Homo sapiens: one gene and its partners. The protein of the gene in region 1 interacts with the protein of each later gene in a biochemical or structural test. Each region holds a gene or a part of one and is shown in the gene's direction. Other genes may lie near its edges. The genes, in order: HTRA3, MARCHF3, SLC34A1, HTR2C, RTKN, XKR7 and UQCRC2.

What was found.
Region 2: the proteins of HTRA3 (region 1) and MARCHF3 interact in a test that uses a peptide from one of them, tested with the Homo sapiens proteins (one large-scale study listed by IntAct).
Region 3: the proteins of HTRA3 (region 1) and SLC34A1 interact in a test that uses a peptide from one of them, tested with the Homo sapiens proteins (one large-scale study listed by IntAct).
Region 4: the proteins of HTRA3 (region 1) and HTR2C interact in a test that uses a peptide from one of them, tested with the Homo sapiens proteins (one large-scale study listed by IntAct).
Region 5: the proteins of HTRA3 (region 1) and RTKN interact in a test that uses a peptide from one of them, tested with the Homo sapiens proteins (one large-scale study listed by IntAct).
Region 6: the proteins of HTRA3 (region 1) and XKR7 interact in a test that uses a peptide from one of them, tested with the Homo sapiens proteins (one large-scale study listed by IntAct).
Region 7: the proteins of HTRA3 (region 1) and UQCRC2 interact in a test that uses a peptide from one of them, tested with the Homo sapiens proteins (one large-scale study listed by IntAct).

Annotation. Positions count from the first base shown.
Region 1 is NC_000004.12:8,279,754-8,283,253, forward strand, and holds part of HTRA3 (serine protease HTRA3 isoform 1 precursor), read left to right. Parts: intron 1-2,683; coding exon 2,684-2,783; intron 2,784-3,500. UniProt on the Homo sapiens protein: Serine protease that cleaves beta-casein/CSN2 as well as several extracellular matrix (ECM) proteoglycans such as decorin/DCN, biglycan/BGN and fibronectin/FN1.
Region 2 is NC_000005.10:126,867,214-126,870,386, reverse strand, and holds the end of MARCHF3 (E3 ubiquitin-protein ligase MARCHF3), read left to right. Parts: 3' UTR 1-2,673; downstream 2,674-3,173. UniProt on the Homo sapiens protein: E3 ubiquitin-protein ligase which may be involved in endosomal trafficking. E3 ubiquitin ligases accept ubiquitin from an E2 ubiquitin-conjugating enzyme in the form of a thioester and then directly transfer the ubiquitin to targeted substrates.
Region 3 is NC_000005.10:177,383,284-177,387,233, forward strand, and holds the start of SLC34A1 (sodium-dependent phosphate transport protein 2A), read left to right. Parts: upstream 1-1,150; 5' UTR 1,151-1,204; intron 1,205-2,411; 5' UTR 2,412-2,458; coding exon 2,459-2,567; intron 2,568-2,703; coding exon 2,704-2,853; intron 2,854-2,937; coding exon 2,938-3,066; intron 3,067-3,139; coding exon 3,140-3,283; intron 3,284-3,950.
Region 4 is NC_000023.11:114,849,586-114,853,085, forward strand, and holds part of HTR2C (5-hydroxytryptamine receptor 2C isoform a precursor), read left to right. Parts: intron 1-3,500. UniProt on the Homo sapiens protein: G-protein coupled receptor for 5-hydroxytryptamine (serotonin).
Region 5 is NC_000002.12:74,431,938-74,435,437, reverse strand, and holds part of RTKN (rhotekin), read left to right. Parts: intron 1-2,771; coding exon 2,772-2,971; intron 2,972-3,500. UniProt on the Homo sapiens protein: Mediates Rho signaling to activate NF-kappa-B and may confer increased resistance to apoptosis to cells in gastric tumorigenesis. May play a novel role in the organization of septin structures.
Region 6 is NC_000020.11:31,966,972-31,970,950, forward strand, and holds the start of XKR7 (XK-related protein 7), read left to right. Parts: upstream 1-1,179; 5' UTR 1,180-1,204; coding exon 1,205-1,788; intron 1,789-3,979.
Region 7 is NC_000016.10:21,956,361-21,959,860, forward strand, and holds part of UQCRC2 (cytochrome b-c1 complex subunit 2, mitochondrial precursor), read left to right. Parts: intron 1-874; coding exon 875-958; intron 959-1,056; coding exon 1,057-1,206; exon of another isoform or gene 1,207-1,224; coding exon of another isoform or gene 1,225-1,257; intron 1,258-2,174; coding exon 2,175-2,239; intron 2,240-3,500. UniProt on the Homo sapiens protein: Component of the ubiquinol-cytochrome c oxidoreductase, a multisubunit transmembrane complex that is part of the mitochondrial electron transport chain which drives oxidative phosphorylation.

The DNA of each region.
Region 1 (3,500 bases):
TTCCATGTGCTGTGCCCCTGCCCGTGGGCTCTTCCAGGCCTGGGTCAGGGCACCTCTGCACTCACCCACCCCACGCCGGGCTCCTCTCTGCCTCATCCCTGGTGATGCTGTGCTGTCTCTGGTCGGTCACTGACTTGACCCTTGCCCCCAGCTGAACCACTGTGTCTCCAGCAGCTGTCACAGGTGGGCACACAGGAGGCACCCTGCACGAGTGGCTTGAATAAGGCTGTGAGCAGCGGCAGATTCGGTACAACTGGGGCTGCTGCGGGGCTGCCTGGAGGAGGCAGGATTAGGGCCGGGCCCAGGACCAACCAGAGCATCTTGGTAGGGAGAGTAGAGAGAGGTCGTGCAGGGGGAGGTGTAGAGAGGTGGATGATGAGCAGAAACTGGAGTTGGTGGCCCGACAAAGGCCACACGGTAGGAGAGGTAATATGGTCCCACCTGGGGGCTGTGCCCGTGCCCTGGCGCTTCTCCTCAGGCGAGGCACATGGGGCGCCAGCCTCAGGCCCCAGGGCACACAGGGGAGCAGCAGACCGGCTGAGTCCTCCCTCCTGGAGGGAGGAGGGCCTGGGCCTGGGGGTTGCCCTGGGATCCCTCTGGGTCGTGGAAATTGTGGGTCTGAGCGCATCTTGTGAGAGCTCTGAACCAGCTCCAAACCTCACCAGGGAAGCAGGCTTTGTGGCTGGTGTCCTTCCTCTCTACTTGGGTGCTAGAAAATGAACTCAAGTTCCCAGGGGCAGGGAGGAGAAGCAGACAGGCCTGGGCTGCCCACTCGGGCCGCACGGCAGCTTCACCTCACCAAGGGAGCCGCCTGCTTTGTAGGTGTCGAGCAGGGCAGCGCATCCCTCATGGAAGCAAACGTGGGCAGAGAGAGCCCTGGGCCCACAGCAGGCCCTGCCCCTGGGGTGTTTGTTAATGTGACCTCTGAACCTGAGACCCCGCTCTGCCGCAGTGGTTTGATCTATGAGGAGCCTCGCGGTGGCCGGCGTCTCCCAGCCAGGCTCTAGCCACCCCAGACAGGTGGCCTTTGATTCAGGCTGACTGAAGTGGACGAGGGCTGGTGTGGTTGGTGCCTGCGGGCCGGTTGAGAGGCAGACATCGGAAGTCTGGGAGACCCAACACCAGAGCTCGAGCCAACCCCCTAGGTCCCAGCTCAGGCTAAAGGGCTCTTCAGGGCCTTGGGGAGCTGCAGGGCAGAGGTGGGGGCACCCAGGGAAAGGAGGCCTGCGGCCTGCGTTCAGATCCTGGTTCTCCCCTCCCAGCCGTGAGTCCTTGGGCAGGGGGGTTCTTCTTACAGAGCCTCAGTGTCCCCACCTTTAAAATAGAGGAAAAGTTTCCTTCCCCTGGCTGCCCCTGGAGAGTTGGGTGAATGAATTGGGATGTGCCTGGGGATTGTGTTTGCCCTGTGATGATTCCTAGAGCACGGACCGCGGCCCGGGCCCTGCCCCCACAGTGGCATCCACCATGGTACCTTCGTGCCTTTGGACGATCCAGAAAACCAGATTTTCCCTCGGTCCCCATGCCCGGCCACTTCCCAGAGATCAAGAGAAATGTGGGCTGCAAAGCTGGAAAGCTGGACGTTATGGACTGAGCCCTCTTTGCTCCCCATTGCCAAGGTGGCTGGGTGGGTGGGTAGCCCCCCGGGCAGGGACTCGAAGTTTGCAGTCCTCCACACTCAGTTCCCACAGATGTGGTAGGAGGGCATATTCAGTCCCATTTTTCAGATGAGGAGTTGAGGCCCAGAGAACGTAAGTAATCTGTCTGAGGCCACACAGCTAGAAAGCAGCCAGGCCCAGCCGAACCCCTGGTGTGTGCAGCCCCCAGCCCAGTTGCTCATTGCGGGGCTCGGGAGCCACGAGCGAGGCTGAGCAGCATGTGTTCCAGATGGTGGGAACTGGAGAGAGCCCGGCACAGGCCCGTGCAGGGAACCCCGAGGGCTGTGGGCCCCGTGCCACTGCATGCCTCAGGCCTGTGGTCCTGGCAGCCACAGCCCCTACTGCTGACGGCAGCAGGAATCTGAGCCCGGGAAGGGTCCAGGGAAGTTCGTGAACCATCTAGCAAGTCGGGCTGGGGTGTGGCCAAGTTAGACACAGATGTAGGGCCCTGTGGACTCAGAAATTGGCAGCTCTTTTGGCCCAGAGGGGCCACACTGTGTCCGGGCCTGGGTAGCTCAGAAGGGTCACCTGGGGGTCTTCCACTACACCCCCGCCTGGACACTGCTGTAGCCCCAGGGCTCGGAGGGACCAGCTGGAGCCCATGAGGAGAGGGCCAGTTCTCTCCTGTAAGGGTATTGCTGTAGCATGAGGGAACAGACAAGGCCCAGGGGGACTAACCCGAGATCCAGCCCTGGCCTCACTCCCGTGTGGCTCACGGCAATATCCTAACCTCTCTCTGAGCCTCCTGCCCAGCCTAGCAGGGTCCAGTGAGGGGGGTGAGGAAGCCCAGCACGTGGAAGCCTTTTTAACCATTCTCGGGGTGAGCGAGCCCCTTCCCAAATGCCTGGTGTCACTGCACTGCTGTGTGGTAGGGGGTCCCCAACGGGCTCAGTGTGGGCTGAGGCTGGCTCTGAACTGGGACAGGGGTCTCAGGAAGAGCCTCCTCCTTCTGCCCACTGGGCATAGGCCTCTGGGAGCTGGCAGCATCGTGATCTCACTGATGCACCTGGCCCTTCCCGCCAGCGCAGGTCTCCACCAGCTGAGCAGCCCGCGCTACAAGTTCAACTTCATTGCTGACGTGGTGGAGAAGATCGCACCAGCCGTGGTCCACATAGAGCTCTTCCTGAGGTGGGTGAATACCCCTCGCCCCTCTCTGCCTCCTGGTGTCCCCTGGTACACCCGCCAGCTGCTGGGGCCCAAACCAGGCTTGATTCTGCAGCCTGGGCCACAGAAACTGGAGTGGCCTGGGGTCAGGCTGACCTCAGTCACATCTGCTGGCTGCCTGTGTGCCCCTGGGGAAGGACATCCCCGCTGAAGTGACTCCGCACCTGCTGGAGCTGTAGGCACCAAGAAGGTGCACAGCTGTGGGTCTTTGTCCCTTCATGCTGCTGCCCATGCTATTGGATACATGCAATGTGTTGGTCGTCCTGAGGGGCCGTGCAGTAAAGCAGACACAGACAGAACCCAGCGGAGGAGATGCCAGGAGACAGCAGGTGTGTGTGCAAGGAGCAGAGGCATGGCAGGCAGAGAGCAGGGCTCGGGGCAGTGGGAACCGGGGGCTCGGGAGGCCTCACAAGCTAAGCCTGAAGTAGGCACCCCGGGAGCTGGGCCAGTGGATGCAGGGCAGTGGGGGCAGCTCGCAAGCACCGAGGCCCGTGTGGCCGGAGCGGGGAGGAATGAGGGATGGGTGAGTGAACGCACGAATCAGTGCATGGATGAGTGAGGGGAGGAATGAGTTAGTGAAGGAAGTGGCAGAATGAATGAGTGAGGGAGGGAATGAGTGAGTGTCCAATGGATGAGTAAAAGAATGAATGAATGAGTGGAGTCGGTCAATAGGGAAGCGGG
Region 2 (3,173 bases), on another chromosome or scaffold:
GATACTGTATGGAATTTTCTGAACACCTCTTTAACGTATGAGGAAGGTTGTCCTGCTACGGATGCAATTCAATTCTTCCTTTTTTATTACTATTTCAAACACACACACATATATATATATATTAAACTTAGATGATAATCAAAATCAAAAAGTCAACGTAAAAACTGGTTTCTTGGTTTGGTTGGGTCTTATTTGAGTTAGTTTGTTTCTCAGTTTCTCGTATGGATTCTTTGGGGTACTTTGGTAGCCTGAGTGGTCTTTTTCATCTCTTTCGCGTCCATTACTCAAGGAGACAGCATAACAGATGCAGAACAAGTCATATTTGAAGAATGTTTTGTACTAAACTTCATTTAATTATTCAGTTTTTAAAGGGAAAAAGGGCGTGAGCTCACACAGTGAGCTGTTTATTTAAATATCATTAAGGAGAAAAAAAAATATGGTGAGAAGCTCGCTCCTTTCAACTTGTTTGGTACTGACAGCTGATAGAAGCTATTTTCTAATAATAAACATCCAGTGTGTGAAAGACAAAACCCACTGATTGCAATACTCTTTTTTTAATGATAAAACCTGTGAAGTTTCCCAAAGCAGGTTTTAAAAGGAAAAAAAGGAAAAGCAAAAAGGTTGCTGTTCTCACTCCCATCTCATTTAGTGCATGTCTTAATTCGGGATTCGTAATGAATTGGAGGATCATTAGACATTTCTAGGAACCCTAGACCTGTTTTGCATGTCAATTAGCATTCCCATTGCTCTATTGAATTTCTAGCTTGACAGGTAGATGTGGCAAAAAAAAAAAAAAAAAAAAAAGCCTGTCCTAGCAGCCCTGCACTTATTCTAAGACCCCTTTGTCTGATTCTTTAAAAAGGAGCCCCACACAGTGCCTTCCCCCAACCATGAGCCAATTCTGTCACAGTCCGAAATAGACTTTTTCTAAGGGTTTCGTGTCCCTCTTTTATCCGTCGCAGTGTAAAGGGTCTGATCCGCAGCCTGCATTGTGCGCGCACCGAGGCAGGAGCGGATGTCTTCTGAGGAGAGCGCTGGCTGGGGTTGACTCTCAGGCTCCCGGCTGTCCGCCCGCCCACACGCAGCGAGGAGGGGCGGAGCCCTGCTTCCGGAATGCTTAAAATATGGAATTCTAGAACATGACCCACATTCTGAGTATCACTCCAGCATCTGCCTTGTGTTCCAAGTGGGAAAACGAGAAGTGCAAAGGAACAGGCAGCGAGGAGGGTAGCGATTTTTGTCTGCAAATTGATGGAGCTGATGCAGGTGTCCCCTTTGTAGGCGAGCCCTCCATTCACTGGCTGCTCCCAGCGCTGCCTGGGGAGGGAAACAGCTGTACTGCTCTCCGCTGCAAAACTCAGATGTGCTTTATGGCTTGTGACAATAGATTTCCTCCCCACCACGCTTCACTGGGACACTTCAATTCCAGTAATATATGTCTCAGCCCTTCTGTTTACTGCGCCCTGCTCACCCCCCTGGGCTGTCATTAGCTGCACCACCATCAACCGTTTCTTAATTGACCTTTTTAAAATGCTGGACATCACCGGCTGCACGCAGCTGCCACACATTAAATTTCCAGAGCAAAGAGTCCAACTTGGTAGCTGGTGAATTGCAGCCCTGTAATATACTTAATAAATGACGTCCACCCAGCCTTAGTCCCTGAGCTGTCAGGTGAACCCGTGACACGTCTCAACTGAATGGCACAACATTCATGAGAGGACCATACCCCTTCTCCCTGTTTCTTGCATGAATTAAGGAAGCAGCGGATTTCCAGGATGATTTCCTGTCAAGGTTGGCTGCAGAGAATTCCTGCCATCTTGGTTCATGAGATGAGATATGACATCATCAAAGGCAGCCAGGTCCCAGGCCGTTCAATGGGGATCCTGCATTAGGAAGGGTTTGCACATTAAAACTGTGCCTGTGCCACACCTCTTTCCTTCGTGTTTGCATCCCTGCCCTGTGAAGTAAAACAGAGTCCAAGATGCAAGGAGTAGATTGTGTGTGGGGTGGTGAAAGGACACCCCTGGCAGCCAGGCAGAGCATCAGTGCCTCCCTTCCCAGGTCACCAGCTTGGGACCTCCTTGTGAGAGGCTCTGATCTCCATCAGCATCAGGGCCCATAGGGGATTCTGAACTCTTGGAGGATATTTCATCCCCTCCAAGCCTTGCCCCATGGAAAGGGCTACACCTCCTGCAGGAAGGGGTGCCTTTTGTTAACAGGTATTAATGGGTACAGAGGCACCATGCAGCCTACCAGCACCCTTGCTAGCCTAGTCCTCTTCCTGTGCTTCTTTTTGAAAGATCAAGAATGAAGAGGAAGAGATGAGGAGTGGGGGTCCTTTACCTAAAGGACCCTCGTGGTTCATTGCTTCTCTTTAACTGACTTTTTAAAAAAACTCCCTCTTCCACACTCCTTGCTGTGATTCTGTCCTAATCATTTTTCTTGAGAATGTCATGTAGAGATAAATGTGTGTCACAGTGAAGCCAGAAGGTGAATTAACAACTAAGACAAATCCAGCATGCTCTTGCCTGCCCTGCATATGTGCTCATTTGGGGAAGGACGGAGGACACAGAGCATCGACACAAATTCTACAGCTCCTCAGAGAACACAGCAGAGACTCAGATGAGCTGTAAAATCCATTAAGGAAAAATAAATGGCATGATTTGGAAGTTACTTTGATTTGTCTTTCATTGTCCTAGTCTCCCCTGCCCCTAGTGCCTGGGCCCTGCCGTGGATTGTCACTTTCAGTGGGGCTGTAGCCATAGGCATTTCATTTTCAGTGAAAATAATTCATCTGCGGCATGGAGGAGCCAAAGGAGAAAATGGAGGTGAAATCGCAGCCCAAGTGACCCCACAGTTGGGCAAGCAGCCAGCTTCCGGTTCCACTTCCTCCTAGATCCTTATTGTTCCCATTGGGACACTGACCCTGGCTGGGCTCTGGGTCTGCGCCTGCACCGTGCATCTTTCTCCCATATTGGAATCCGCTCAGCCTTGCCTGACACTCCACACAGCTTATGGAGCTGTCCACACTAGGAAATGACCCATGGCCCAAAGAACCTGAGTAGGAAAGACAGCTAGAAAATGAAATCAGGAAATGCTTCCTTTCCACTTCAATCCAGAGTGTTCCTAGAAGCTGCCTGAAGATCTGCCACACAACTTGTAGTCCCTAGTGC
Region 3 (3,950 bases), on another chromosome or scaffold:
AAACTTCAAAAATATCAAAAAGCACAACCTTATTAAAAAGGAGAAACACCCCCAGTTCACCAGGAGCACCTTGGATTCAGCTGCTCCTGCCAAGGGTCTGAACTGCACGGGGGAATGGAGAGAAACAGGTCACGTGGGCCGGGGTCTCTGGGCCCGCTGTGGGGGTGTCAGTTTGCTCATAGGTGGAGACACTCGATGTGACATTAACAGCACCTTCAAGCCCAAGGACCCAGAGATTCTGACACAAGAACTGAGAACTGATTGCATTTCCGTGACTCAGCGACACCCTCCTACCTGGGCATGAACCCAGCCCTAGCCAAAGATCCAGAGACCCGACTCCCATCTATTTCCTTTTCCTCTCTCCCTCCCCGTCACCAATTCTACTGGTCAGATGTCCCTGGGATGCACCTGTCCTCCCCAGCCCCTCCGTTCCCATCGGAGTTCAGGCCTCATCATCTCCTGCCTGGACCATTAGCCTCTTAACTGGCCCCTCCGCTTCCAGGCTCCCTTCCATATATCCGGGTTCCACCCCGGGGGCCATTCTAAAAGGCAGATCAGGCCCATCCCAGTCTGGCCAGCGGCTCCACATTCACTCAGACTCACATCCTGGACCCATGGTCGGGCATTAGAGACCTGCCACGATTCAACATTCCACGGCCTTTCCAGCTTAGGTCCTCATCTCACACTCCCTCTCCTCTGAGCTCCCCCTGGGAGACTTACAGACACCCCGACGCTTGGCAAGGCCATAGGATGTTTTTGTTTGGTTTGGTTTGGTTTTTCTGAGACAGTCTCACTCTGTCACCCAGGCTGGAGTGCAGTGGCACGATCTTGGCTCACTGCAACCTCCGAAGGCCATAGGATGTTTGGGTCATTCCCTGGGGAGTCCTGTCAGGCCAGGAACGAGGGGACCCTGGGAACAAGGTGCTGAGTGGCATCAGGGTCTCTGCCTGCAGGCGGGGGATGTGTCTGGGTCGTGGTTGATGGGAAGAACCTGACCATAGATTCCCCATGCAGAGCTGACGATTAGCAATTAACTGGGAGGAATCTCAGGGGTGAGGTTAATTGGGGGACAGAGGGAGGGCAGCTAGGGTTCCAGGGACTTTGCCCTTGACCCAAGAGTATAAAGAGGAGGGTCTCAGTTCTCCTCAGGGTCCTGGAGGCTTCATTGAGCTGCTGAGCAGAAGCTGAAACACAGAATTCTAAGGTGAGCCCAGGACCCTCACATCCCAACCCCACCCCCAGCTCTGAGTAGGAAACAGCCCAGCACCCCAGCCCCTTCATCTGTGTCCTATCTGCGCCCACCCCCACCGCGCCCCATATAACATGTCAGTCCAGCCAATCGCGGTGGCTCCCACCTGTAATCCCAGCACTTTGGGAAGCCGAGTGGGCGGATCACCTGAGGTCGAGTTTGCACTAAAAATACAAAAAATTAGCCAGGTGTGGTGGCAGGCACCTGTAATCCCAGCTACTTGGGAGGCTGAGGCAGGAGAATCGCTTGAACCCACGAGGCAGAGGTTGCAGTGAGCCAAGATTGTGCCACTGCACTCCAGCCTGGGCGGTAAGAGTGAAACTCCATCTCAAAAAAAAAAAAAAAAAGGACTCCTGCTCCTTCAGGACTTGAATTCAACTCTTCACACCCCTACAACAGCCAAGGACGCTGGGACAATGCGGGGAGTGCTGAGGCAGATCAGGGCACTCCACCCCAATAGCCAAGACTCCTGGGGCAGTGCGGGGACAAGGGGGGGCTGAGGCAAGCCTGTCAGTGTTTGTTCATTGCCCCTTGAGGGGGTGGATGGGGAAAGGAATTCATTGTGAGGGGAACCCAGGAACTCGGGATCCGGCCCAGGGGATCTCCGTGTGTGCCCAGCTGACCCCATGAGAAGGCAGGTGTCTGCAGCTCCTCCTTGCTCTCCAGGTGGGCAAAACTGAAGCCCGGCCCAGCCCCAGCCCACACCTGCAGCCACTGCCAACACCACGTATTCCCTGGCCCCCTCCAGCCCCAAACAGGCTGGGCGTCCTCAGTTCTCAGTGTCTTTTATCAATGCTATATCCAAGCCTCTGGTTCGGAGCCTGGGCTAGAGCTCAATAATACTCATTGAATGAGTGAATGGTGAATGAATGATCACCTCACCACCACCACACACACCCCTCCGAGACTCACATGCAGGTGCCCAGCACAGATGTGCACATGTGAGTCTGCATGTGAGTCTCGGAGGGCTGTGGTGGTGATGATGGAGGGTGTGGTTTGCTGGGTGTGTGTTTGTGCGTGTGAGTCTCGGAGGGGTGTGTGTGTGTGGTGAGGATGGAGGGTGTGCTTTGCTAGGTGTGTATTTGGAATCATGCGCCATGGGGGTTTGTGCAGGTGAGGGTGTGTGGGCATGAGTGTCCCGGACACAGCTATTGTCATTCAGCGTTGCTGAGACCCACTGACCTGCAGACCTCATAGTGGGTGCCCAGGATGTTGTCCTACGGAGAGAGGCTGGGGTCCCCTGCTGTCTCCCCACTCCCAGTCCGTGGGGGGCATGTGATGCGAGGGACGGCCTTTGCCTACGTGCCCAGCCCTCAGGGTAAGTGCTGCTCCCACACCCTGGACCCTGGTTGCCCACGGTTGCCCACATCCCGGATGAGGCCACTTCCCCCGCCTGTTCCTCCCCGCCTCCCCACTTTGGGGCCCTGGGGCTCCTGACCAGGCTCCCTCCCTAGTCCTACACAGGATCCCGGGGACCTCTGCCTATGCCTTCCCCAGCCTGGGCCCTGTGGCCCTTGCTGAGCACACCTGCCCCTGTGGGGAGGTCCTGGAGCGCCATGAACCACTGCCTGCCAAGCTGGCCCTGGAGGAGGAGCAGAAGCCAGGTGGGCCTGGGCTGGGGGTGGCAGAGGCGGCAGCAGTCCCTGCCCTGGCCTCTGCCCACTATGCTCATGGCTTCCCCCATCCAGAGTCCAGGCTGGTCCCCAAGCTGCGCCAGGCTGGCGCCATGCTGCTCAAGGTGCCACTGATGCTCACCTTCCTCTACCTCTTCGTCTGCTCCCTGGACATGCTCAGCTCGGCCTTCCAGCTGGCTGGAGGTAGGGCCCGGGTGGAGGAGACCTGGGAGGGGTTCCTGAAGGGCCTTGGACAACGCTGGCTCATGCTCCCCAGGGAAGGTGGCTGGTGACATCTTCAAGGATAACGCCATCCTGTCCAACCCGGTGGCCGGGCTGGTGGTGGGGATCCTGGTGACCGTGCTGGTGCAGAGCTCCAGCACCTCCACATCCATCATCGTCAGCATGGTCTCCTCTGGCTGTGAGTTGGCCCACCAGGGTGGGGAAGAGCTTGGAGGGGCACCCCAGGAGCTGGGAAGGGTGGCAAATGGGGAGCGTGACCCCAGTAAGGCTGGCCTCCATTCAGCTTGACTCCTGTATCAGCCAGGGACATGAGAGGAGCCCAACTGTAGCTGTATGTGACCCAGATGATTTATGGCAAGGAACTGGCTTCCCCGATGGTAGTTTGTCTGGGCAAGTCAGGAATCCGTAGGCCAGGGCATTGGAAGGGCAGGCGGGAACTCTCAGGTGGGCGCCGACACTGCAGTCCAGACAGGGCAGCGTTTCTCCTTTCTCAGGGAAGCCTCAGTTCTGCTTGAGGCCTTTCATTCTATTGGATTAGGCTGACCCAGGTTACCAAGGATAATCTCCTTTTCTTAAAGTCAGCTGACTGTAGACGTGAATTGCATCTACAAAACACCTTACAGAACACCCAGGCTAGTGTTGGGTTGAATAACTGGGTACCACAGCCTAGCTAAGTTGACACATAAAACTAACCATCACTGGCCGGGCGCAGTGGCTCATGCCTGTAATCCCAGCACTTTGGGAGGCTGAGGGGGGCAGATCACGAGGTCAGTAGATCGAGACCACCCTGGCTAACACGGTGAAACCCTGTCTCTACTAAAAATACAAAAAAAAAAAACAACAAA
Region 4 (3,500 bases), on another chromosome or scaffold:
GTCTGGCAAGGGCCAACCAACCTGAATTTAATTCTGGGATCACAAAAAAACCAGACACTAGGAATAAGGATCGACCAGGATTAAATCACCATAGACATGGAATTCAGCCCTGGTTCAAGTCATCTATGTAAATGAGAGAAATCTTGGGCCTTAAAATTGGATTAAGATGATTTCGTATTATTCAGGTTTCCAATTTTGGGGCATAAACAAACAAAAAAAACCCCATAATCCTAGATTTCAACTTATTTCTTTCAATAATTTTCAAATGCTGTCACTGAAATACAATGATATGCAGATATATGAGGAGACAATACAACATGAATCAGGTATGGGACAATAAGAGATAACAGAAATAAACTTACAAACACTTCAGATAATTGAATTATCAGACATACACTTTAAATAATCATTTGGAATGTGCACATGGAAATTACATGCTGATCTTAAACACTTCAGCAAGAAACTGCAAACTATAACAAATGACATTAAGATTTGAGAAACACCTAGAAAATATGGAACTTAAGCATAATATGAAAAACTAAGGGCCAGGCAGTGTCTTACACCTGTAATTCCAGCACTTTGGGAGGCCGATGCAGGCGGATCACTTGTGGCCAGGAGTTCAAGACTAGCCTGGACAACATGATGAAACCCCATCTCTACTAAAAATACAAAAATTAGCCAGGTATGGTAGCACACGCCTGTAATCCCAGCTACTTGGGAGGCTGTGGTGGGAGGATCACTTGACCCTCAGAGGTCAAGTCTGCAGTGAGCTGAGATCATGCCACTGCGCTCCAGCCTGGGCAACAGAGTGAGACTCTGTCACACACACAAAAAAAATTAATTAATTAAAAAATGAAAACCTAAGAACTCTGTGGCAGATTAGAGATGGCGAATTTCCAAATTTACAGAAGATTATTATAAAATATTAAAAATTAGCTGGGTATGGTGGCATGTGCCTGTAGCCCTAGCTACTCAGAAGGTTGAGGCAGGAGCATCACTTGAACTCAAGTGTCTTGAGGTTGCAGTGAGCTATGATCGTGCTATGACACTTCAGCCTTGATGAGAAAGCAACACTTTGTCTCTACAAATAAAAGATAAAATGAAATAATAAGATAAATCCAAAAGGAGTCAATAAAAGATAGAAAAATATAAAACGTATACTGAATGGCAGAATTAAAACCAAATATATCCCTAATTATATGAATTACTAAGGATTCTAAGACTGTCATATAGGCTTTCAAAAAAATAAGACAACTATATGTTACAAGAGGCATATATAAAGCATAAAGAAAGTAAAAGGATAAAAACAAACAAAAAAATTCCTCCATCTAAACACTATCCAAGAGAAAGACTGTATAGCTATATTAATATTTGTCAAAATAGACTTTTCGGCAAAAAACAAATACTCCAGTGAAAGAAGATTACTTACTATGAAAGATTTAATACATCTGGAAGACATAAGGTAATAAATTTGTATGTACATAATTATATGTAGATACATATGTAATATACATAGTATATACATTATAAAGTAAAAGAGGACAGAACTTCAGGGACAGATAGACAAGTCTACAATCATCGCATAAGATCTTAGCACATCCTTCTCAGCGATTGTATGAAAACAATTAACAAACCTGAACTCACTGACAAGTGAAGAATACATATTCCCATCATTGCACAAGAAATATTTATCAAAACTGACCATAAAGTAATTCCTCAACACATTCCAAAGGGTTGGAATAAATTGTTTATTCTTTGACTGAAATTCAAAAGAAATAGAAATGACTTCAAAATAGTAGAAAAACCTTCGTATATTTGGAAATTAAGAAATTGTTTCCCAATAAACTTTGACCTAATGGATTTCAAATCCATTGATGATTCTTCCCTAAGCTATCTATTACTAAGGTGATACAATGATAATTTTTCTCATTTTATTATTCTTCCTGCCTTTATTTGTTGGTATTATACTGTAAGGAAGTGTTTTCCCTCCAAGTCTTTGTTATTTATTAGTTCATGTTGGTGGAGACTCCTGGATTCTTTTGTATTCAGTGTAATATATATGATTCATTATTGCCCTTAATTATTTTGATGCTCAAATTGTCTCATATTTTTCTAATAAGAACTCCTTTTCATATATCCCATCAGCTTTTGAGCATTTGCCAGACTCACCTTTTACTTTCCATGCCCCAGTTCCGAAATTAGCCATTTCTTACAAGAAACCCTTTTAGTGGGCAATGGTTTTATAAAGCAGGATGCAGAAGCTCAGTATGCTCATTGCTAATAGGATATCATTGCTCCTATATATCAATACCTTTAATCCCAATTCACGAACACAGGACTCTTGCTACTTTCCAATTCTTTATTTTTCCTCATTTTTCTCACAGTGAGTAACTTTGTCCCCAAACCATTGATATATTTATTATTTATATTTTCTATATCCTACCATACAAGAAATTAATTTCAGAATTTCTATACCCATACCACTACCAATAAATGAAATGCAATGTTTAAAATTTCATTGCAATTTTATCTTTAGAATGTTTTCCACCAATGGCATATAGTCAAAGCATTGTCTTCAAAATGCTAGGATTAGTTTGAATTTTTTTTCTCTGTGGTTCTGATACCAATTGTTCACATTTAGGGATTTTGTTTTGTTTTTGCATGTATTCCCCAACCTTGTTGACTTTATTTTTTAATATGTAAAACTTTAATATGATGCTCCAACAGTCAAAACTAGGCAAATAAAATACTCAGAGAAGAGTCAGTTCCTCTTCTATTCCGTGGTTAACCCATTCATTAGTTTCTAGGGCATACTTCTTGAATTTATTTTTGCAAAAAAAAAAAAGATTATACACAAATACACGTATTGTTATTTTTCCATTCTTAAATTAAAAGTTAAAATGCTACATACAAATTAATACTTTGTTTTGCTTTGTTCTTTTACTTGGAAATATGTCCTGGAAATCACTCTATCAATTTGTAAGATGATAGATATGCACCCAACTTTATCATGTAAATGGCCTAAATACTCCAATTAAAAGCTAAATTCATTCTATTATTTTTTACACTCACTAATAATAGATTGTGTTGATATACTTTATTTAACCAATCTTCTGTGTATAATCAGGTAAGTTGTTTCCAACATTTGGAAGTTGCCAATAATTCTACTAAGAATAATTGTGTGTGTGTGTGTGTGTGTGTGTGTGTCCTTTGTGTGTGCGTGCGTGCATGTGTGTCTGTCTTGTGTGTTTGTGTGCGCGCGCGCGTGCATGTGTGTGTTTCATATTATTGGAAGTTTAACTTTTAAATAAATTCTTGCTCAAATGTATTCAGAATTTATCTTCTAAATAAATTCTTAGAGGAGGAGTTGATTGATCAAAGGGTACATGTAGTTAGGAGTTGAACCATTTTGCATTCCCACCAGCAATGCAAGAAAGCCTCTGTTTCCCCAAAGCCTTGCTAATGAAGTTTATTTTCAAACTTTTTAGATTTTGCAAATC
Region 5 (3,500 bases), on another chromosome or scaffold:
CAAAGTATAGCGTCATTAAAATAAGCATCCCTGCCATTAATGTATACCACATGCTGGGCACTGTGCTAAGTGCTTTAAGTTCCTGCCTCACAGAATTCTCACAGCCCTAGGACTATTTCCATTCCTGATTTACAGATGGGGAAACTGAGGCTTAGGGAGGTTGAGCAAATTGCCCATTGCTTTTTAAGAAGCAGGACCTCCAGGGCTCCTTTCTAAATGAATGTTCCTGAGAATCCTGGTGTCTCTTCCAGGGCCTCTCAGCTGGCCCTTATCCACAGTCCCTCATTCCTGGACCACCTACCTTCCCATCCCCATTCCTTGCCTCTGACCTCATCTCCCAAGCTCAGAGGGCCGGTAGGTGGTGATTCTCTTAATTTGGGGTGTATAGGTTTCTGTGCAGCGTCAGTGAACACTGTAGGTGGTATGCTCCTTGTCCACTGATCCCTTGCCAACTAGATGTCCCTGGCATCACTTGAGTCTGAGGGATAACTCTCATTTGCCTTTCCTTCTGTCCATTCCCATGAGTTGGTGGTTCTCAACCTGGGTGTACCTCAGAATCACTTGGGGAGTTTTCCAAAAGTACATATGCCCCACTCCTAGAGATTCTTATTCTGCAAATCTTAGGTAGGGCCTGATCATTTTTTTTTAAACTCCAAAGATCTAATATTTTTTAAAGGAAATACAATTTCCAGTAGTACAAAGGGTATATATAAAGTATCATTAGGCTGGGCGCAGTGGCTCAAGCCTGTAATCCCGCACTTTGGGAGGCCGAGGTGGGAGGATCACTTGAGGCCAGGAGTTCGAGACTAGTCTGGCCAACATGGCGAAACCCTGTCTCTACTAAGAATACAAAAGTTAGGCCAGGCATGGTGTCTCACACCTGCAATCCCAGCACTTTGGGAGGCCAAGGCGGGTGGATCACCTGAGGTCGGGAGTTTGAGACCAGCCTGGCCAACATGGTGCAACCCCGTCTCTACTAAAAATACAAAAATTAGCTGGGTGTGGTGGCTCACACCTGTAATCCCAGCTACTCCGGAGGCTAGGCAGAAGAATTGCTTGAACCTGGGAGGCGGAGTTTGCAGTGAGCCGAGATCATGCCACTTCACTCCAGCCTGGGCAACAGAGTAAGACTCGGTCTCAAAAAAAAAAAAAAAAAAGAATACAAAACTTACTCGGGCGTGGTGGCACATGCCTGTAATCTCAGCTACTCAGGAGGCTGAGGCACAAGAATCACTTGAACCTGGAAGGTGGAAGTTGCAGTGAGCTGAGATCGCGCCACTGTACTCCAGCTTGGGTGACAGAGTGAGACTCGGTCTCAAAAAAAAAAAAGTATCATAAATGTTTTCCATCCCTGGCTCCCAGGCCTACAATCACTAATATTTTATGCATAAACATGCATATCTATATCTATGTATATATATGCATGCATACATATATATATATCATGCACAAATGGTAGTATGTGCAATACTACCCTTCTTTTCTCACATCATTTATTTTGGAGATTGTTTCATATCTGCATACATGTGCATATCTCTTTCCTTAATGTCTGCAATACTACAGGGTACAGATGTACTGTTACTTATTTAACCAATGTCCTACTGAAGGGGTTTTAATTTTGGTGTTTAAAACAATGCCACAATGAGGCCGGGCGCGGTGGCTCACGCCTGTAATCCCAGCACTTTGGGAGGCCGAGGTGGGCGGATCACAAGGTCAGGAGATCGAGACCATCCCGGTTAACACTGTGAAACCCCGTCTCTACTAAAAATACAAAAAAACAATTAGCCGGATGTGGTGGCGGGCGCCTGTAGTCCCAGCTACTTGGGAGGCTGAGGCAGGAGAATGGCATGAACCCCAGGAGGTGGAGCTTGCAGTGAACTGAGATCGTACCACTGCACTCCAGCTTGGGCAACAGAGCGAGACTCCGTCTCAAAAAAAAAAAAAAATGCCGCACTGAATATTTTTGTATGTATGGCTTTACCTAGATATATGTGAAATTATATGTGTAAGATAAACTGCTAGGTATTGGATAGCTGAATTAAAGGATATATGAATTTGTAGTTTTCATAGATTTTTTTCCAAATTGCACTCAAAAGAGGCTGAAGGAATTTATACTTCCAACCATCAAATGCATGAGGGCATCTCTATTTTTCTTATTTGTTTTATATATATATATATATGTTTTTTTTTTTTTTGAGCCAGAGTCTTGCTCTGTCGTCCAGGCTGGGGTGCAGTGGTGCAGTCTCGGCTCACTGCAAGCTCCGCCTCCCGGGTTCATGCCATTCTCCTGCCTCAGCCTCCCAAGTAGCTGGGACTACAGGCGCCCGCCACCACGCCCTGCTAATTTTTTGTATTTTTAGTAGAGACGGGGTTTCACCGTGTTAGCCGGGATGGTCTCGATCTCCTGGCCTTGTGATCCGCCTGCCTCTGCCTCCCAAAGTGCTGGGATTACAGGCGTGAGCCACCGTGCCCGGCTGTTATATATTTTTTTAGAGGTGGGGTCTCACTATGTTGCCCAGGCTGGCCTTGATCTCCTAGGCTCAAGGGATCCTCCCACCTCAGCCTCCCTCACACACCACTGCACCTGGCTACAAAGCTTCTCTGGTTATTCGTGGGCAGCTGAGATTGAGACCCAATGCCTGCTCTTGAACTGCCTAAAACATTAGTTTCTTGTCAGTTTTACTGGCCACAGCCCACCTGGGGACTGGGGAGTGCTTTAGCCTGTCCACTGACTGACATTTCCTTCTCACCCTTCCCCCAACCCTGGCTAGGACACGGAGTTGCAGAGGAAGCTAGACCATGAGATCCGGATGAGGGAAGGGGCCTGTAAGCTGCTGGCAGCCTGCTCCCAGCGAGAGCAGGCTCTGGAGGCCACCAAGAGCCTGCTAGTGTGCAACAGCCGCATCCTCAGCTACATGGGCGAGCTGCAGCGGCGCAAGGAGGCGCAGGTGCTGGGGAAGACAAGCCGGCGGTGAGCAAGGGGGAGACGAGGCCTCGATGGAGGCAGGAGGCCTTCTGGGTGGTGGTGGTGCAGCATGTGCGTGTGTGGCATGTGGACCACCTTAAAGATGACTTCCCCATGAAGTCTTATCAGGGACCTGGGAGAGACCTTGGTGTTTTACCACCACTGTGTGTTGCCCAGAGGCGCATTTGTGAGTAGCCAGGGCAGGACTTAGAAAAGTCGGTGTGTCTGGTGAAAGGTAGCTGATCTGAAGGGTAGCAAGTAATGCAAAAGCACTAATTTGCTAAGCCCTGTCTGTGATCCAGTAAGACTGGCTATCTGGCTTTTGGAAAATTAATTTCCTCAACGCTGGTTCACAAAATCACCAATTTACCACATACTGACAATAGTTTGTTATATCTGGGGTTCACCTTCAGAGGCAGGGAGTGGGAAAGGAAATAAGAAACCACTTAAGGAAAGCCTACCCATTCAAACAAATTAGATTGTGCATTCTAAAAGGGCTCAGCTTCTGGATGTAAAATGTAAGCAACACTGACAT
Region 6 (3,979 bases), on another chromosome or scaffold:
ATTGTAGTGTTTTGGACAGTGCCAGGCAAAGAGACACTACTATATGGATGTTTGTATAATAAATGCCTGGATACATCCAATCTGATCAAAGGCAGAGATGGGAAATGAGCTTGGGGTATCCAGGATGTGTGGGAACTCCACCCCCTCTCATAGGTTACTGCTATAATCTCCTTCTGGTCTCACCAGCCCCAGGCTGCTTCCTTGTGATCGCTTCTCTACTCTGGCTGCTGGGTCTTCTTTCTAAATCCTGATGTGACCACATAACTCCCCTGCTCAAATACTGCAGTGGTTCCCCATTGCCTGCTGGATAAAGGCCACCTTCTGGCCCCTTAGGATCTCATCCTCAGAACTCTGCAGCCCTATCTTCCCCATCTTTCTCCTCCCCTGGATCTGAGATCCAGACTTGCTTGAAGATATGCCCTCCAGTCTCAGGCCTCCAGGCCTTTGCACTTGCTCTTTCCTCCACCCGGTGTTTCCTCCCATCCCTTTCCTCTTGATGTTGGATGTTGTCCCCTTCCCTCCCCCTACTCTACTAGGGCTGTAGCCAGATGAAGGCAGTCCCCGAGAGAGGGAAAGCGGAGAGTAAGGAAGAGACAGCAACTCAGAGCTGCAGCTTTCTCAGCTTCAAAACGAAGACAATAAGAAAAGGGGACCCCTCAAGATCAAAGGAGGGGATGGAACAATATGTGAGCACTCAGGAAACTGGAAATGAGCGTTAGCATGGAGTGACTGCTAAAGGGTTACTGGGGGGCCCGCCCAAGTCCCCCAGCTCCTTTCTTCCAAGTCCCCCACCCACCCCCCCGTCAGACCCAGGCCACTGGAGGTGAACACAGGAGAAAAACGAAGTGGAGAGAATGGGAAGGGGGAGGCGATAAACAAAAAAGAAGGAAGTGCAGTCCGAGGGGAGATGAGAGACAGAAAGCATGGGGTTGGAGCCCCGCGCCTCCGAGGAAGGAGGGAGAGGGTGACCTGGGGTGCGCCCCGCCTCCCCTGCTTCCGCATTCCCGGGGGCTGCCCCCCCTTCGGCCGCAGCTCAGGCGGGTGGGGGCGGGGCGGGGCGGCGCCGAGGAGAATGAATAATTGAAGTGGAGGGGAGGAGGAAGAAGAGGAGAAGGAGGAAGAGGAGCCGCCCGCGCAGGGTCCTCCCCACGCCGCACCCCCCTCCGCCGCCCGGAAGTCGCTCCCCGCCTCCCTCTCCGCCAACATGGCCGCGAAGTCGGATGGAGCGGCGGCCTCGGCCAGCCCGGACCCGGAGGGGGCTGCCGGTGGAGCCCGGGGCAGTGCCGGCGGGCGCGGGGAGGCGGCGGCGGCGGCCGGGCCCCCGGGGGTCGTCGGGGCGGGCGGCCCGGGGCCGCGCTACGAGCTGCGGGACTGCTGCTGGGTGCTGTGCGCGCTGCTCGTGTTCTTCTCCGACGGTGCCACGGACCTGTGGCTGGCGGCCTCCTACTACCTGCAGAATCAACACACCTACTTCAGCCTCACCTTGCTGTTCGTGCTCCTGCCCTCGCTGGTCGTGCAGTTACTGAGCTTCCGCTGGTTCGTCTACGACTACTCGGAGCCCGCAGGGTCCCCGGGACCCGCCGTCAGCACCAAGGACAGCGTAGCCGGCGGAGCCGCCATCAGCACCAAGGACAGCGCCGGCGCCTTCCGGACCAAAGAAGGCAGCCCCGAGCCGGGTCCCCAGCCTGCGCCCTCCTCGGCCAGCGCCTACCGCCGCCGCTGCTGCCGCCTCTGCATCTGGCTGCTGCAGACCCTCGTCCACCTCCTGCAGCTCGGCCAGGTCTGGAGGTAGGAGAAGCGCAGGTGGAGGGACCTGAGCCCGAGGAGTGGGGGTGGCGAAGGGCTACCTGACGTCCCAGCCCTGATCTGACCTTTCCGGGCTACCCTCCTGTCCTGACCTCCCCCCCTCCCCACCCCATTGCAGCTCTAATTTCTTCTCAGTCGGCTTCTCCCTGACCTCTGCCCCCAAGCCCTGACCAACCCCAGTGCCATCCGGTCTGACCTGGCCTTCGAGAGGGGAGGGGATGGTTCAAGAAAGGAGAGAAAGAGATCCTCAGGGGTGTGCGTGAGTGGGGAGGACCCGGGGCTCATGAAGATAAATGTGAAGCTTAAAACAGGACCACAGGGCCCTATTCTGCCATAACCCACTCCTCTCTGCCTGAGTGCCAAGCCTGGGCTCAGGAAAGATCTCAGAAGTCCTTTCCTGCTCGCAAAGATCCTCAGTTCAGAATTGCAGCTCATTCACAACCTGCAAGGAGAGTCACAGAATTTGAGACAGCTAAATGAATATCCCGCCTAAACTTCTTGGACTTTTTGGAGAAAGATATGCTGGACCCAACTGGGGAGCCCTCAGGCTCCTTCTACTTCCTATGACCCCCTCTCCCCCAGCTAAGGGTCCTCCCCTTCCAACAGGGCCAAGGGGATTTGGAATCTTGAATCTGAGATTAGATGGCCACTGGCTGCCCTTTAATCCCGAACTGGTAAGGCAAAACTGAGGCTTTGTTCAAGCTGCCCACTTTCAGTCTTCTTCCTCTGCCAGAACTGAGGGTGCCTGCTGCACTGAGTTAAGTGGAGAGAGGAGGAATTCTAAACCTAGGGCTCCTCTTGAATCTGAATTGCTATTTAGTAGCTTAGGCCCTTCTGTGCTCTAACAGAATGAACTTGCTTACTATATGATCTTAGGCAAGCCGCCCTCCTCCTTCCAAGCCTCAGTTTCCTCTTCTGTGAAATGAGGGAGAATCCCTACTCCTCTTATCTCATTGTCTTATCATTGCATTATTCTTACCTGTTGGGATGGTCAGGTGAGAGGTCTGCATGAGGGCCCTGCAGACTGTAACATTTTAAGAGTGTGGGGAAAGCATGGAAAAAGTCACTCTAGAGATATAAAGGGTGATTACTGCTGTTGTTATATTTATTCTGCTACTTGTTAACACATTCTGCCTAACTCAGAAGATTCAGTTTGGGGCTGAGGGTTGAAAACAGGACTCCTAGGGTTTGTCCCAGCTGCTCACTTGCTGTGTCACTCTTGTTGTGTTGTCGAATCTCTCTGCCTTTGTTTCCCTATCTATTCCTGCCAAGATGATGTGTATATTCCACTTAGCTTATCCTGGAGGAAAAGGGGGCGGAGCTCTATCCACACAAGGTGGTGTTATTATTATTAGCGTGACACATAAAAATATTCATGTCTACATCCAGGAACTAATCTGCATTTATCATTCTGTGCCCGAGTGGACAGATGGTGAAAGATATTTTTAGATTCTGAAATGGTAACTTCCTATTCTTGGTAGGAAGCTTCATCCCCCTTTTCCTTCAGCCTAAAGTGGGCCAGATGCCCCTCGACTCACTGGCTATCCCCCCATTCAGAATCCACTTACAAGAAACTAATACTTCTCTTCTTTGTTAAGCATAAACTGAGTTTCCCTCAAATAGGGCAAAAATGGCCATGGGTGTGGGGTCCCAGGGGAGTAGCTAGAATTGCTAAGGATCCCCTCAGCTCTATGGTTTCTTGGATATGGATAAAAGGACTAGCTATTTCTACTATCTCCCATTTGCAAAATGAGGAGGCTGGGATGAGATAAGTTTGTAGGGATAACAATCTAATAGCTCTTAGGTTGAATGTGGCTTGTGGAAGTGTTTTGTGTGGCTTGCATAGTATTTTAAAAACCCAGAGTCGTAGCTTCCCTTTAAAAAAATTGGATCTAGCAGTATCAATCCTGTAACAATTTAGAAAGAGTCTATGTGCTCTAATTTGTCCATCTTTCCCTTTGATCATATCTGTACTATTTCACTTAGACATGAAAGCCCTAATTTACAGTTCTATAACAATTATTTTATTAAACACTGACTTTGTGCCAAGCCTACTGGTTGCCTTTTTACCTGCTTTATTTCCTGTACCCCTTCTAATCATCCTGTCATGTGGTTAGCATTATAATTTCTACTTGACAGATGAGGGAATGGAGGCTCAGAGAGGGGGCATCCT
Region 7 (3,500 bases), on another chromosome or scaffold:
GGGTGAAACGCCATCTCTACTAAAATACAAAAAATTAGCCAGGCGTGGCAGCATGTACCTGTAATCCCAGCTACTTGGGAGGCTGAGACAGGAGAATCGCTTGAATCCAGGAGGCAGACATTGCAATGACCCGAGATCGCACTGTTGCACTCCAGCGTGGGACACAGAGCACGACTCCAACTCAACAAAAAAGGTTGTGGATGGGGTGATCTGACACTTTTTCAAAAAATGCCAAAGCTTTAGAACTACACAGAACCATGAAACTTTTATAAGGTAACTGAAAGATAAGAAAATACAGTGATTCTTTACATCATTTAAAAAATAAGCATCAAGAACTCTATAAATCACTAATAAATAGAGGTTTAAGAATGGCTTGGGTAAACTGGTGGGTTAGTAAGTCCATAATAAGTTATGCAGCTAGGCGGGGTGCAGTGGCTCACGCCTGTAATTCCAACACTTTGGGAGACCAAGGTGGGCAGATCACTTAAGATCAGGAGTTCAAGACCAGCTTGGCCAACACAGTGAAACCCCATCTCTACTAAAAAATACAAAACAAAAACTAGCTGGACATGGTGGCACGCACCTGTAATTCCAGCTATTTGGGAGGCTAAGGCAGGAGAATGGCTTGAACCCAGGAGGTAGAGGTTGCAGTGAGCTGAGATTGCGCCACTGCACTCCAGCCTGAGCGACAGAGAGACACTCTGTCTCAAAAAAAAAAAAAAAATGTTATGCAGGTAAATCCTCCCATGGAGGTGGTTATTGCTCCTTCCACCCCCGAACACCCTCTGTCGCTTGGGTACCCTAAGATACCATGCTTTTATATAAAGCACTGTTCTTGTGAGAAATACGTGTAACCTGTGTTTTTTATGTTTAGAGATTTTATTCCCTCAAAGTTGCCCCCAAAGTTAAAGCCACAGCTGCGCCTGCAGGAGCACCGCCACAACCTCAGGACCTTGAGGTTAGTCCCACTAACTTGCTCGCTGGAAGCTATACATGCCTTACTCTCCTTGGTAATACGAAGACATTCATTATATCTCTACTTTATTTTAAATACAGTTTACCAAGTTACCAAATGGCTTGGTGATTGCTTCTTTGGAAAACTATTCTCCTGTATCAAGAATTGGTTTGTTCATTAAAGCAGGCAGTAGATATGAGGACTTCAGCAATTTAGGAACCACCCATTTGCTGCGTCTTACATCCAGTCTGGTGAGTATCTTCACTTCCTCAAGTGTTTGGAAATGCTGTGGTATCTTGGTCCTGTGAAAAAGAAAAACTAAGATCAATGTCTTTATATTTTGATTCCTTGACCTGCCATAACAAATTACCACGGACTGGGTAGCTTAAACCAAATAAGTTTATCCTGTTACAGTTCTAGAGGCTAGAAGTCCAAGTCAAGGTGTCTAAGCCAAGCCAAGATATCAGCAGGGCTGTGATCCCTCTAAAGGTTCTAGGAAGGCACAAATCCTCCCCTGCCTGTTCCTAGCTTCCAGCAGTTGCCCACAACCCTTCATGTTCCTTGACCTGCAACTGCATCACTGCAGTCTCTGCCTTTGTTGTCACATGGCCTTCCTTCTGTCTGTGTCCACATTTCCTCCTGATAAGGATACCAGTTACATTAGATTTAGTGCCCACTATAATTCAATATGATGTCATCTTAAGTACTTAAATCTGCAGAGACCTTATTACCAAATAAAGTAACATGCAAATATTCTGGCTGGACATAAATTTGGGGGGGAACACTGTTAAACCCAGTACTGTCCCCTAATGTAAAATGAGAAACCACAAGATATTTGCCACAGAGAAGCACTAAATTAGTATCCATATGAATGTTGATGTTAGAGCATAAGAAATCAGTAAACAAATTTTTAACAGGAAGTGCCGCAAATTGAAAGAAAATTAACTCTTTTTTTCCCATATACAAGTCTCTTTCAGAATAGACTAATGAATCCAGTAAGCTTGTATTTGACAGTGGAAATTTTACATGAATGTACTTAATGTAAAAATGTATACTTAAGCTTTTTGTTGAGCCTTGTTTTATAATTCTTAACTAAAAAGGATGCAGGAATTTAGTAAAATTCTTTTTAAATCTGCTCACAACAGATTTTGATATAGTGTGATGTTTGGCAAACTTGGCATTGAAAAGCTACAAAGATAATCATTCTTTCTTTTTCAAGACGACAAAAGGAGCTTCATCTTTCAAGATAACCCGTGGAATTGAAGCAGTTGGTGGCAAATTAAGGTTTGTTAAATAAGTAATAGAAAATAGTGAAAATGCCAGAAAATATTCAATTTTAAGGGAACTTTTCTCTGTTATCAAGGAGGTTGAGGATTTCTTAAGCAACATAAGAAGGAAAAGACTGATGAATTTGAGTATATCAAACTGTAAAACATCTTTATGTCTTAAAGTAAAAATTTAAGTAACTGTCTGGGAGTAGATATCTGCAATATATAGGCATACCTCAGAGATGTTGCAGGTTCTGTTCCAGACCACCACAATGAAGGGAATATTGCAGCAAAGCAAGTCATAGGAATTTTGTGGTTTCCCAGTGCATATAAAAGTTATGTTTACACTATACTGTGGTCTACTAAGTGTACAATGACATTTTGTCTTGGAAAAAAAGTACATAACCTTAATTTTAAAATATTTTATTGCTTTAAAAATGTTAACAGTTATCTGAATCTTCAGCAAGTCATAATCTTTGCTGGTGGAGGGTCTTGCCTCCACGTTAATGGCTGATGACTGATCAAGGTGGTGGTTGCTGAAGGTGGTGGTGACTGATAATTTCTTAAAATCAGACAACAGTGAAGTTTGCTGCATTGATTGACTCTTCCTTTTGTGAAAGACTTCTCTGTAGCATGAGATGTTGTTTTTAGCCGTTTACCCACAGAACTTCTTTCAAAATTAGTCAGTCATCTCAAACCTTACCACTTTTTTATCAACCAAGATTATGTAATATTCTTTTTTATCATTTCGACAGTGTTCACAGCATCTTCAACCAGGAGCAGATTCTATCTCAAGAAACCACTTTGTTTGCTCATCCATAAGAAGCATCTCCTCATCTGTTCAAGCTTTATCATAAGATTGCAGCCATTCAGTCACATCTTCAGGCCCCACTTCTAGTTCTCTTGCTACTCCCACCATAGTTGCAGTTTCTTCCCCCTCTGAAGTCTTGCCTCTCAGAGTCATCCATAAGGGTTGGAATTGGCTTCTTCCAAACTCACGTTAATGTTGATACTTTGACATCCTCCCATGAGTCACAAATGTTCTTAATGGTGTCTAGAATGGTGAATTCTTTCCAGAAAGTTTTTTAATTTACTTTGCCCAGATCCATCAGCGTCTTCACTATCTGTGGTAGCTGTAGCCTTACAAAATGTATTTCTTAAATAATAAGACTTGAAAATAAAAATTACTCCTTGATCCATGGGGTGCAGAAGGGATGTTCTATTAGCAGGCATGAAAACAGTGTCAATCTCCTTGTACATCTGCATCAGAGCTCTTG